Linked DNA regions of Homo sapiens: region 1 is linked to region 2. Evidence: fine-mapped expression QTL. Tissue or cell type: whole blood. Region 2 holds a variant in brackets; the other region holds the start of a gene. All regions are shown on one strand. Distances are from middle to middle.

Region 1 (5,390 bases), 61 kb after region 2:
GTTTCACCGTGTTGGCCAGGCTGGTCTCGAACTCCTGACCTCAGTTGATCTGCCTGCCTCAGCCTCCCAAAGTGCTGCAATTACAGGCGTGAGCCACGGCGCCCGGCCATAATTTTTTGTATTTTTAGTAGAGACGGGTTTCACCATGTTGGCCAGGCTGGTATCCAAGTTCTGACCTCAACTGATCCGCCCGCCTCGGCCTCCCAAAGTGCTGGGATTACAGGCGTGAGCCACCATGCCCAGCCTATTGGGTCACTATTATCTCAGATTAAGCTTCTTAAATTGGGGACCTCTGGGTAGATGCTGCTCCAGACTAAACCTGACAAATTTTCTAGGAGTGACAATTACATTTGATAACAATTTTAGGCAATATTTTATATTAAATATAAAATGTTATATTTTGGAATAATATAGAAATTTCAGAGGAATTTTAAGATAATACACAAGATAAGACATTTTTTACTTGTGTCCAACTTTTTTATCTTCGCATTCCTTTGACACTGAGATGCTTCACAATTACCAATTTTGTAAAACTATGATCAAGACATTAATGGAGGGGAACTTTGGTAGGGACAAGAAAAGTGGACAGGGAAATAATTCTTCAACACAAATCTACCTTCAGTAGAAGAGCTGCAGCGGACTTGCAATCAATAAATGGTTACTTAGCATCTAATGCGCAAAGCAAGGGGCCCTGGGTTCCTTGAAGAGGAAGAATAAGAACAAAAAGTATACTTAGGCTTTGACTTAGTTTTCTATTAACTTAAAAAATGAGCTGTTTCCAACCCTCTAAAATCTATATTTCTAAGGTTGTATTTCTTCCAATTAATCCTTGACTGATTATACAGAAAATATTCTCGGACTATGACTCAAGTGACCAAAAAATATCTACATTCCAATTCAGCTAAGCTTCGGCATGTCCTTCTTGACTCCTCTCCACCTCTTCTCCACCCTTCCTCAAAGTCAACTCAGGTTAACTTCCTATTTTCCTTCAACCTCTGTATTGAACACACCAGAAGCAGCTTTAACCTTCCCTGTGCCTTCTTTCAAGGGAGCTGTTCTCCCTCCAGGATATCACTCCTCCAAACTGAGCTTAGATTGCAAGCCCCTGAGGGTATAAATCTGAACTGAATCTGTAACTCCCAAGAGAACCTAAAAGAGATCCTAGAACAAAACAGATGCTGGATAACTAATGTAACACAATGAAGATTAAGGCTCAACAACGTCGGGAGCCTTTGCTAATTTACTCACTGGGCTCCTCTGGTGACCACATACTCTCAAACTAAATACACTCACAAAACATGAATGTCTGTATCTAATTTATACGATAGATTTTTCATAGCTTTCTTCCTTGTAAGGCATCCCACTCCCACCTGCAAACGTATTACTCCTTCCCCTGAGGCAATGAAACAAATGTAAAAGTAAAATACCTTTAAAGAGTGCCTAGGTAAATTTTTGTCTTTATAATGTAAAATAAACTCCCCAGGGTATACCTTTCCCAAAGGAAGGTTCTTGTAATCTTCCCTGTAAGTCTTGAATCCGCTAAACTGAGGTAAAACACAAAAGAGAAAAAGGCTTGTATTGCAAGTTTGAACTGTAGTGATAAAGGAGAAGCTGAACTTTGGAAGGCTGGCTGGGGGCCGGTAGGTTGACCTTGGTGAGAGCGCAAGCAAGTTCCAAACCCGGGGCCACCTTGCAGGGCGCGTCCACCGTCCCACGGACCCCGCGCACCTGCCCTCTCCCCCGGCTGGCTCGCCGTGCCCACCTCGCTCTCCACTGGCCCGAGCCTCAAGCGGGCGCTGGACTTTACCTTGCGTGACGGCCAAGAGGCAGTAGTGAAGCAGAAAGCCTCCAGGTGTGTTGCAGCGCTGGAGACATTGAGGATGGAAGTTCCTCCAGCCGTAAGACCCCTCCTCAAACTCGGACAGCGACAGTGACCGGAGCTTCTCTTCGGAGACATTGGGAGGGGCTGAAGGCAGAGATGGCTCTGGTGACTTCTGGGGCTCCTGGGGCTTCTGAAGCTCCTGTGGCTGAGAATTCTCTCTTTGGGGGTCAGAGGACAAGGCAGAGACTTCGATTTGGGAGGGCGACGCAGACAAGCGGCGCAGGATGTCTGGGCTGGAGGGGACAAAAGCCAAGTTCTCAATACCTTTGGCGCTCTTCATGTCTGGATGGGTTCTCCCGACTCCGGTGCTTCAGAGCAGCAGAGCCAGGTCCCTCTCTGGCTCCTCCCACAGGCAGGTGACAGCGCCCCCGTGCGGGAAGCTTCCCGCCTCCTGGCCCTCCAGCCTCCAGCGCACTCTCCGCCACCGCCTGAACCTTCCTACTCCAGCTCGCAGCTGTCTGGAGCGCAGAGCGCTGAGCGGGGGCGTTAGCGCCCCAGCCTGTGGCTTTGGCGCTCAGCTGTGCCTCACCCGTCGCCTCAAGGACCAACCGGAAGGCGCGGCGTGGGCGTGCCACCCGGCGGCGGCCGAGTAGAGGGGGCGAGAGTTCTCACCCCACAGCCTTCGACCGGAGTCCGCCTCCGCCCAAGCCCCTGCGGTTCTGACCTGAGCCTTCAGCCCGCAGCGCGCCTCCCTTGAGCCCAAGCACTGGGAACACACAGAGACTGTGGGAGTCTCTGGCCATAAGCTCCCCTTGGGTGCTGACATGAAACCTGTAAACAGTTGCATCAGGAGATTGTTCAGGAAACTATCTTGCGTTTTCTTCCTTTGCTGCTTACCAAAGCAGTCTAGGCTTGGACTCCAAGAATCAAGACGTCAGAGGTATACTTTGGTTCATGAGCATCTTGATAAGACTCTTGCCTGTCATCCTGTTACTGGTAGAAGGTGTCCAGGTTCTTGGCATCTTGAAGAAAGAATTGAAGAAAACGCACAAACAAAGCAAGGAAGGAATGAAGGGGTTTATTGAAAATGAAAGTACACTCCACAGTGTGGGAACGGGCGAGCATAGGGGCTCAAAGGCCCGGTTACAGAATTTTGGGGAGTTTAAATACCCCCTAGAGGATTCCATTGGTTACTTTGGGTATGCCCTATGTAAAGGGAGAAGATGAAGTAAAGTTACAAAGTCATTTATGGCCTACGCCCTATGGAGAGGATATTTCCTGTTACAGCTGAAGTGTGAATAGGCCTTATGTTTCCTGCCTCCAGACCCTATTTTCCTGCCTCAGTCCTCCTTAGAAAAAGAAATCCACCCCACCCCACCCCCATCACCACCAGGATGAACATCACAGCATAACCACTGCTTTGCTTTTCCTTCTCCGAAACTGAAGGACCAGAAATTGTCTCTCTGCTGTATATTGCATATGTAAGATATACAGTGATGACAATCATGTAAATAATTTCTACCGGGCCAGGCGCGGTGGCTCACGCCTGTAATCCTAGCACTTTGGGAGGCTGAGGCGGGTGGATTACCTGAGGTCAGGAGTTCAAGATTAGCCTGGCCAACATGGTGAAACACTGTCTTTACTAAAAATACAAAAATTAGCCAGGTGTGGTGGTGCAGGCCTGTAATCCCAGCTACTTGGGAGGCTGAGGCAGGAGAATCATTTGAACTCGGAAGGTGGAGGGTACAGTGAACCGAGATTGTGCCACTTCAATCCAGTCTGGGTGAAAGAGTGAAACTCTGTCTCTTAATAATAATAATAATAATAATAATACATGTCTAACTGTGGAATAAATAAGAAAAACACTTCGAAGAGCTTAACACCATTGTGTCATGGTAGGTACAATTTAGTCATTCATTCTTTCACTTAACACAGACACAAAAAATTCTTGTGTCCTAGGTGCCAAACATTGTTCTAAGTTCTGGGGGTACACAAGTGAACAAAGACTGGCAAATACCCCTACCCTTATGGTGCTTATGTTTTAATAGGAAACAGACAGTAATAATACATAGTACATGGCACATAATATGATAAATACTATTTTGTGAAACTTTTGTTTCAATTATATATGCTGTGTTTACTGGGTTGAGAGACAGATATAAAATATGTATCTTACTTTGGACAGAGGTACATTCTGTTACCTGTTTCCTCACAATCGAGAAAACTCTAGACTGGCCAGCCGGGCGCAGAGGTGCAGGCCTGTAATCCCAGTACTTTGGGAGGCCAAGGTGGGTGCCTTGAGTCCAGGAGTTTGAGACCAGCCTGGGCAACACGACAAAACCCTGTCTCTACCAAAAATGCAAAACTTAGCCTGGCATGGTGGTGCACGCCTGTAGTTCCAGATACTTGGGAGGCTGAGGTGGGAGGGTCGCTTACAACCTGGGAGGGTGAGGTTGCAATGAGTACTCCAGCTGTGCCATAGAGCCAGACCTTGTCTCAAAAAAATAAGAATTAAAAATAAAAATAAATTCTAGATTGGCCTAAAACATGGGGAAAGAGTAGAAGTAGGAGCTAACATTTAAAATGTCTGCTATATGCCCCATTATTAAAATCTTTACAAAAGCAGCTGCACTGTTATATATAGTTTACATATTGAGGAAACCATATCCCATAAAGAATTAGTAACTGTCCCAAAGTCACATAGCTAATAAGTGAACTGCCACTTAAGGATCTGAACTCGGCTCTCTTAGCCAGAAGTCTTCCCTAAACTTTGCATTTTCTGTCTTTTAATAACTACAGTGTATCTCCATCAGGTTAAATTATTGCATAGCAATTTTAAGAGATCAAAATTCAAAATTCTGTGATATTCGTGAGGCTTAGAAGATTAATGCTGCTCTGAAAACCTAGATTTTGGAGGTATTCAAATTAAGCATGGTATGTAATCTTCCTGGGCTTGCTTTCTACAAAAATGGACTCAAAGTAGGTAACTATTTTGATCACCATTTTATCTATGGAATACGAAGTAATTTACACAACCAGAAAATTTTGTTTTGATGGGATGTGATTACATACAATCATGGCTTAAGACTATTTTGCAGCTGTGACTTAATAAATCCATGCTATACTATCAAAATCAGAGTAGCATAATCATCGTGCACTTAAATTCATACTAAGGAGAAATCTCCACTCTCACAGTGTTAGAGAGAGAATTTTGGTTAAAGATTAGCAAAATTACTATTGCTTCATCTTAAATACATCTTGCTCTTACTGAAAGTTTCAATTTCCTGTTCCCTTACATTCTTTATGCTGCAGTGATGGAAGGGGCTTCGGTTTGCAACAAAAACCAAAAAACAAAAATAGGAAAGAAAAATTGTTAGTTTTCATCCCTGATAATTCTATGGAAAAACGTCCATTTTAAAATTAATTGTTTGGTCAATCTAGGTTAAATCTGCCTCTAATGAACACAGTCAAAATATACCATCTTAAATTTCAGAAGGTAATTGATACTTTACTCTTCTTATAGTACATTTTATTTGCTATGTTTTTAAAGGGTGGAGAATGGGAGAAA
Region 2 (5,390 bases):
AAATGGAAAGTCAGACGCACTAAATTTGAAAAGAAAAAAATGATCAATTCTTGATAATTTTTATAAGCTAAATTAATTTTAGCTGAAGCACTAAAATGTTATAATCCAACTTACCCATTGAGTTTTTCAAAGTGGATTATCTTTCATCTATTTTTGATTACTCATATGTGCTGTAAAAGTTAGTGTTTATTGGACTTTACTGAAAAAAAAGCTGAAGGAGCCTGGGGGAAAAGAACATTACATTTCAAATTAACATCTAATATTATTTCCTTAAAATATTTTACTATTACAATAAACTGAGATAAATTAAACACATCCCACACTTTTTTATCAGATAGTTTACAAATAAACCATCTGTAAAATGTATCCTACTTATATAAATCTTATATATTAATCTGTCATATGTAGAAACTTGTGTAAGAGAATTTCCCTAATATATATTTCATAATACATGTGGTTTGTATTGAATTAAAAACATCTGTTGAGATACAAGAAATCACTGGATTAAATTATTAATACATTCACCAAGTTCAAAAGCATACTAATTTCCCTTTCCCATCCATAAAATATGCTTATGTTCACAGAGATAAGGCAAGTTTCAAACCTGTGTCATTTAATAAGCTCAAACACGACAATTTTGTATAAACATTCTGATTTAATAAATGGTATGAATATATATTTTGCATACTTTACAATAAAGAAAATTTTGAAAGAAAATGGATCTAAAACTTTGTTTCCCTCCAATTTACATAGTAAAGTCAACTGCATACAGTTCTTTCCATGTGTAAGTTTTACATTTGTATTTTCTACAATTAAGTAAATCTAAATGTTAAATTTTAACACATATATCCAATTATGTACACAATTACAATGTCAATTTATAAGTCAAGCTTACTTAACAATCATAAATTACAAAAAACGCACTATGAATAATTTTGTTCTAGAAGTATCACATCAACTCATATGATCTAGGTGAACCCAAAAGTAAAAAATAATGATTATAAATTATGGTAGTGTCTGTAAAACCCTGTTATAAAGGAGGTATTCTTTTAAAATATGTACCTTATATATAAAAGCTCCTGACTCCTTTTAAGGACCAAAATTATTTTCAGTCTAACCATTTTCATTAAAGCGCTTATTTAAAAAGTATCACCTTATAAAACTGAGTATATAAAATACAATGCAGCCCTTGATAGCTAAGAATCTTTATAAACGCCAATGATTTAGTGACCTGTTTATCAAACTATTTCTATGGATGGGTTGATTTTTTTTCTTCCTCTAAATTAAGTGGCCCTAGACTAATATATTTGTTCAGTTATTCTGTTTTCTTCCTTACTGCCATTTCACATCTCCATCAGTGAGTTCCTCAGGATTTGCCTTTATGTTACAACTATGAAAGTCTTCAATCCAATTCCCTGCTTCCACACAAAGGACAAAGAAAGCCTAAACTTTCCTTTTCCTTTTTTCTGGGCTCCAATAGGAAGCAGCATTTACAACGTGTCTGGCTTGGTGGGAGGAAGATTGTCAATTGAGGTATCATGTGTGTTCACCTGCCTCTCTTGCCCTATTTCTTTGGTTGCTATAAATTTCCTGCTTCTCAAATATCTGGATTTTTGGCTACCTATTTGGCTTCCGTCTTTGGTGTTTATATCTGTCTGGTTTTAGCAGGTCTCTCTGATTCCTGACCCACAGCTCCTCTCCTTCTCTAATATTCAAGTATGCTGCTTCCCTAACTCCTCATTCCTTCTCCTTGAATTTCACTTTACAATTGCGCTAGGTTCTAACATCGTTGGCCATAGATTACCACAAAACATAATTTCTTAAATTCTGCAAATTTCTAATGTTTCTAATCTTGGTTTCCTACAAGATCTAACACTAAGCTTGTGTTATCCTGATTACAGTGTATATAAAACAATGCTTGTGGAAAATTAACCTAGGAGAAAGCTTATAGGGGAAACCTGATGATGAATTTTATTAAATTAATAACCCTTATAACAATTTCAAATGTAATACTATCTGGATTTGAACTTCAATACTTTTCCTAAGTAAAATTCTTAACCATGGTAGAAGTTATGTTTGTTGATGTTCACTCATCTATACCCTCCATATTCTCAGCAAAGTTGGCATAAATCTGACCTGAATAAACAGGGTTATAACATTATCAGGCTTGTAAAATACTTTATCAAATCAATGCATCAGTTAAAGCAGGGGTCCCCAGCCCTGGGCTGTGTGTGGCCTGTTAGGAATCGGGCCACACAGTTGGTGAGCTGAGAGGCAGGTGAGTGAGCATTACTGCCTGAGCTCCACCTCTTGTTAGATCAGTAGTGGCATTAGATTCTCATAGGAGTGCACACTCCATTGGGAACTGCACATGCAAGGGATCTAGGTTGCACTCTCCTTA[T/C]GAGAATCTAACTAATGCCTGATGGTCTGAGGTGGAGCAGTTTCATCTCAAAACCATACCTTCTTCCCCCATGGAAAAATTGTCTTCCACAAAAATGGTCCCTGATGCAAAAAAGGTTGGGGACTGCTGAGTTAAAGGGTAGGGTTTAATATTCTAATTAAACAATAATAATAGATGACTACACTATGCAAGGCACTGTCTTAGGTGCTATGAGTAATGTGTTAAGTGGTTGGCTTTTCAAATAGGAAAAATTAAAGGTATATAAGTATTGATCAATAGTTTCATGTTTAGTTGGCATTTTTCTTTACTGACTGGTACTTTCCTCTGAAATATATGCAATTGAATAATATTATCACAGAATCATAAATGTGTTAAAAATTGTAATATCAACAAATTACCTCCTGGAATTCTTGAGTTAAAGTGAAAATATGTGTATACAATGCTGATGTTTCTGTATTCACTATATACTAAGACACAAGGATGATAACTAACATATTCTAATAGTTCAATAATTTGCTTGGAGAAAGGCCAGGCTAGTATACATAAATTTAAAAACAAATTACATGGTAAACCTGGTTTTAAATTCATAGGCTTTCAATAATAATTCCCGGAAATCATCACACAACTTTGATTAGTTTAAATTTTTATACCATAAATGTTCTAAGCTCAAAATATTGACAATGAAAATTAAAATTAAACAAGTTGTAATGGGGATAGAAACAACATTTTTTTTAAATGTAAATTTTTCTAATTGTGGGCCTTTTTTCTTGTTATTGCTTGAGGATTTCATACCTAGACAATGGGAATAGGAAATAAGTGTGTATGTGTGCGTGTGTGTGTGTGTGTGTGTGTTCGTGTGTGTGTGTGTGTGTGTGCTCGTGTGTGTGTGTGCTGTGTTTTGAGGCTTTACGTGGGCTTTGAAGGCACAGGTCTGTTTCTTGCATAAAACAAAAACTACATAAGTAAAAAAATACATTTGATTATAAAAACATCAATTTTGTAAATATGATTGTCCATATTGGATAGATAATCCTGCCATGGCAATGTGTGTTCTTAAAAATCGAGGTAAATTTTCCAGGTGTAAAACAGTCTTCTCTTTTCCCATTTCACCCTTCTTTTACTATTTTGTTGAGATCCTGTTCTGCTAAAACATTAGTCACAACTGCATTCTCTTTATGAAATGACACATCTGTGGCTGATGGAGGTGGTTTATACAAAAAGATTGCAAATCCATTGAAGAACATGGTGATAACTTTACAAGTAACACCTAAGTGAAAAAAAAAATTAATCATGTGCTTTTGTTTTTAATTATGATAAAAATTATCACTGAGAAAAATCTTCATGAATAGAACATTTTTAAAGAGAATAATTACATAACCATTATAGTTCTATGTTTAAAATTTTTGAAACATTAAGGGGAAAGAAAAAACATTTGTATACAATTCAAGTCACTAGTACTTATTTTCTTTCTAAGCTGTAATAGAGCACAATAATTAACTTATTCTTGGTTATGCTTGTGCATTCTTGTAAAATAAGTGTTGTATAGAACTAAATAGGAATTGGGCCACCATCTAGATTTGTTAACACAAGCCCATAATCCCAGTACTTTGGGAAGCTGAGAGAGGTGGATGTCTTGAGTCCAAGAGTTCGAGACCAGGCTGGGCACCATAGGAAACCCTGTCTCTACCAAAAAAAAAAAGTGCAAAATATATTCAGGTATGATGGATGGTACAGCCTGCAGTCCCAGCTACTTGGGATGCTGACGTGAGAGGATCGCTTCACCCCTAGAGGTGGAGGTTGCAGTGAGCTGAGATCACACCACTGCACTCCAGCCTGGGTGACAGACAGAAACCCCGTCTCAAAAATAAATAAATAAATTCGTTAACACAATATGATATCTATAAAAAATTGCAAGCAACCAAAAGTCAATAATGAGGGAAAGTAGTTTGTAACATTCTTGAACCTGAATAAATTGAAGAACATTCCCTTCCAGGACAGAAAATAATTCTAAAAATTAAAAAGGTTTTGGAGTTCTTAAAGCCTCTGTGGGAGGATATCACACTCAATACTTAACCAAATCTACTCTTCTTATCAGCTAAAAATAAACATTAAGATTCACTTCACAAACTTTGATTTATTTCCAAGTAAATCTGATTTTAAGTTCAGTTATATGAAGAGAAACTAGTTCCAACCACAGTATAAGCATTTAATAATTGCCAGCCTAATAAATTCAACGTGGTCTCACAGTATAGTTCTTGCAGTAGCTGGTTTCTTTTTGTTGATTATTAATATTTTGTTTAAAAACATGTATTTGAAAAACAGGAATGCTCATTCATCTAGGCATTACTAGACTATAGAATGATTAGTTACATAGGTACAACTTACAACTTTTTTTATTTGTTTCATTCTGAAAATTTTAAGGTTTTATATATTTTGTGGGGGGATTCCCATTCATCATTGACTAGGAAAATGAATGATTTGTTCTATCTATATCTTTGACCAAAAAGTACAAACAAAATGAATTAAATAAATTTTAAACATAAAAACATTGTATGTAGCCATGATTGTGGTAAAAATATATAATTTTAAAAATTGAATAAAAAATGGTTTTTAACAACAGGTAAAGTAATGGGATGATTAATTTTGCCTATACTTGTCAATACTTACTCCCCAAGTGCTATAAGAATTTATAGATTATTTCTTCAGCAAATATTCTATTACTCTATCTCTATCAACTCAGAAAGCATACTCTGGATTTACATGCATGTAAGAGTAATAATAGCCTATCTTGATCAACCTGTGTCAAAATAATCACAATGAAAATCACACATTATATTAGATACATATGTATACATACATTCAGGATTTCTCTAAGCTATTTTAGTTTCCTAGGTTATTATTCAAATTTTAAATTTTTAAATTTCAACTTTTATTTTACTAGTGTAAACTAGATACATTGTTTTACTTAATCTTAATCTTGCCTTAAATT

Evidence for each region.
Region 1: SLCO4C1 starts here. The variant in region 2 is fine-mapped to the expression of SLCO4C1 in whole blood (INTERVAL, PIP above 0.99).

What each region holds. Positions count from the first base shown.
Region 1 is chr5:102,294,101-102,299,490 of GRCh38, forward strand. It overlaps SLCO4C1 (solute carrier organic anion transporter family member 4C1), which reads right to left and starts at 2,184. Exons shown (of 13, transcript NM_180991.5): 1 at 1,808-2,184. The coding sequence starts at 2,162. RefSeq lists an enhancer at 1,950-2,149.
Region 2 is chr5:102,233,351-102,238,740 of GRCh38, forward strand. It overlaps SLCO4C1 (solute carrier organic anion transporter family member 4C1), which reads right to left. Exons shown (of 13, transcript NM_180991.5): 13 at 636-3,668. The coding sequence ends at 3,508. Among named protein-coding and RNA genes, the nearest start is that of SLCO4C1, 60 kb to the right of the region's middle. The variant T/C (reference allele first, on the strand shown) is at 2,402.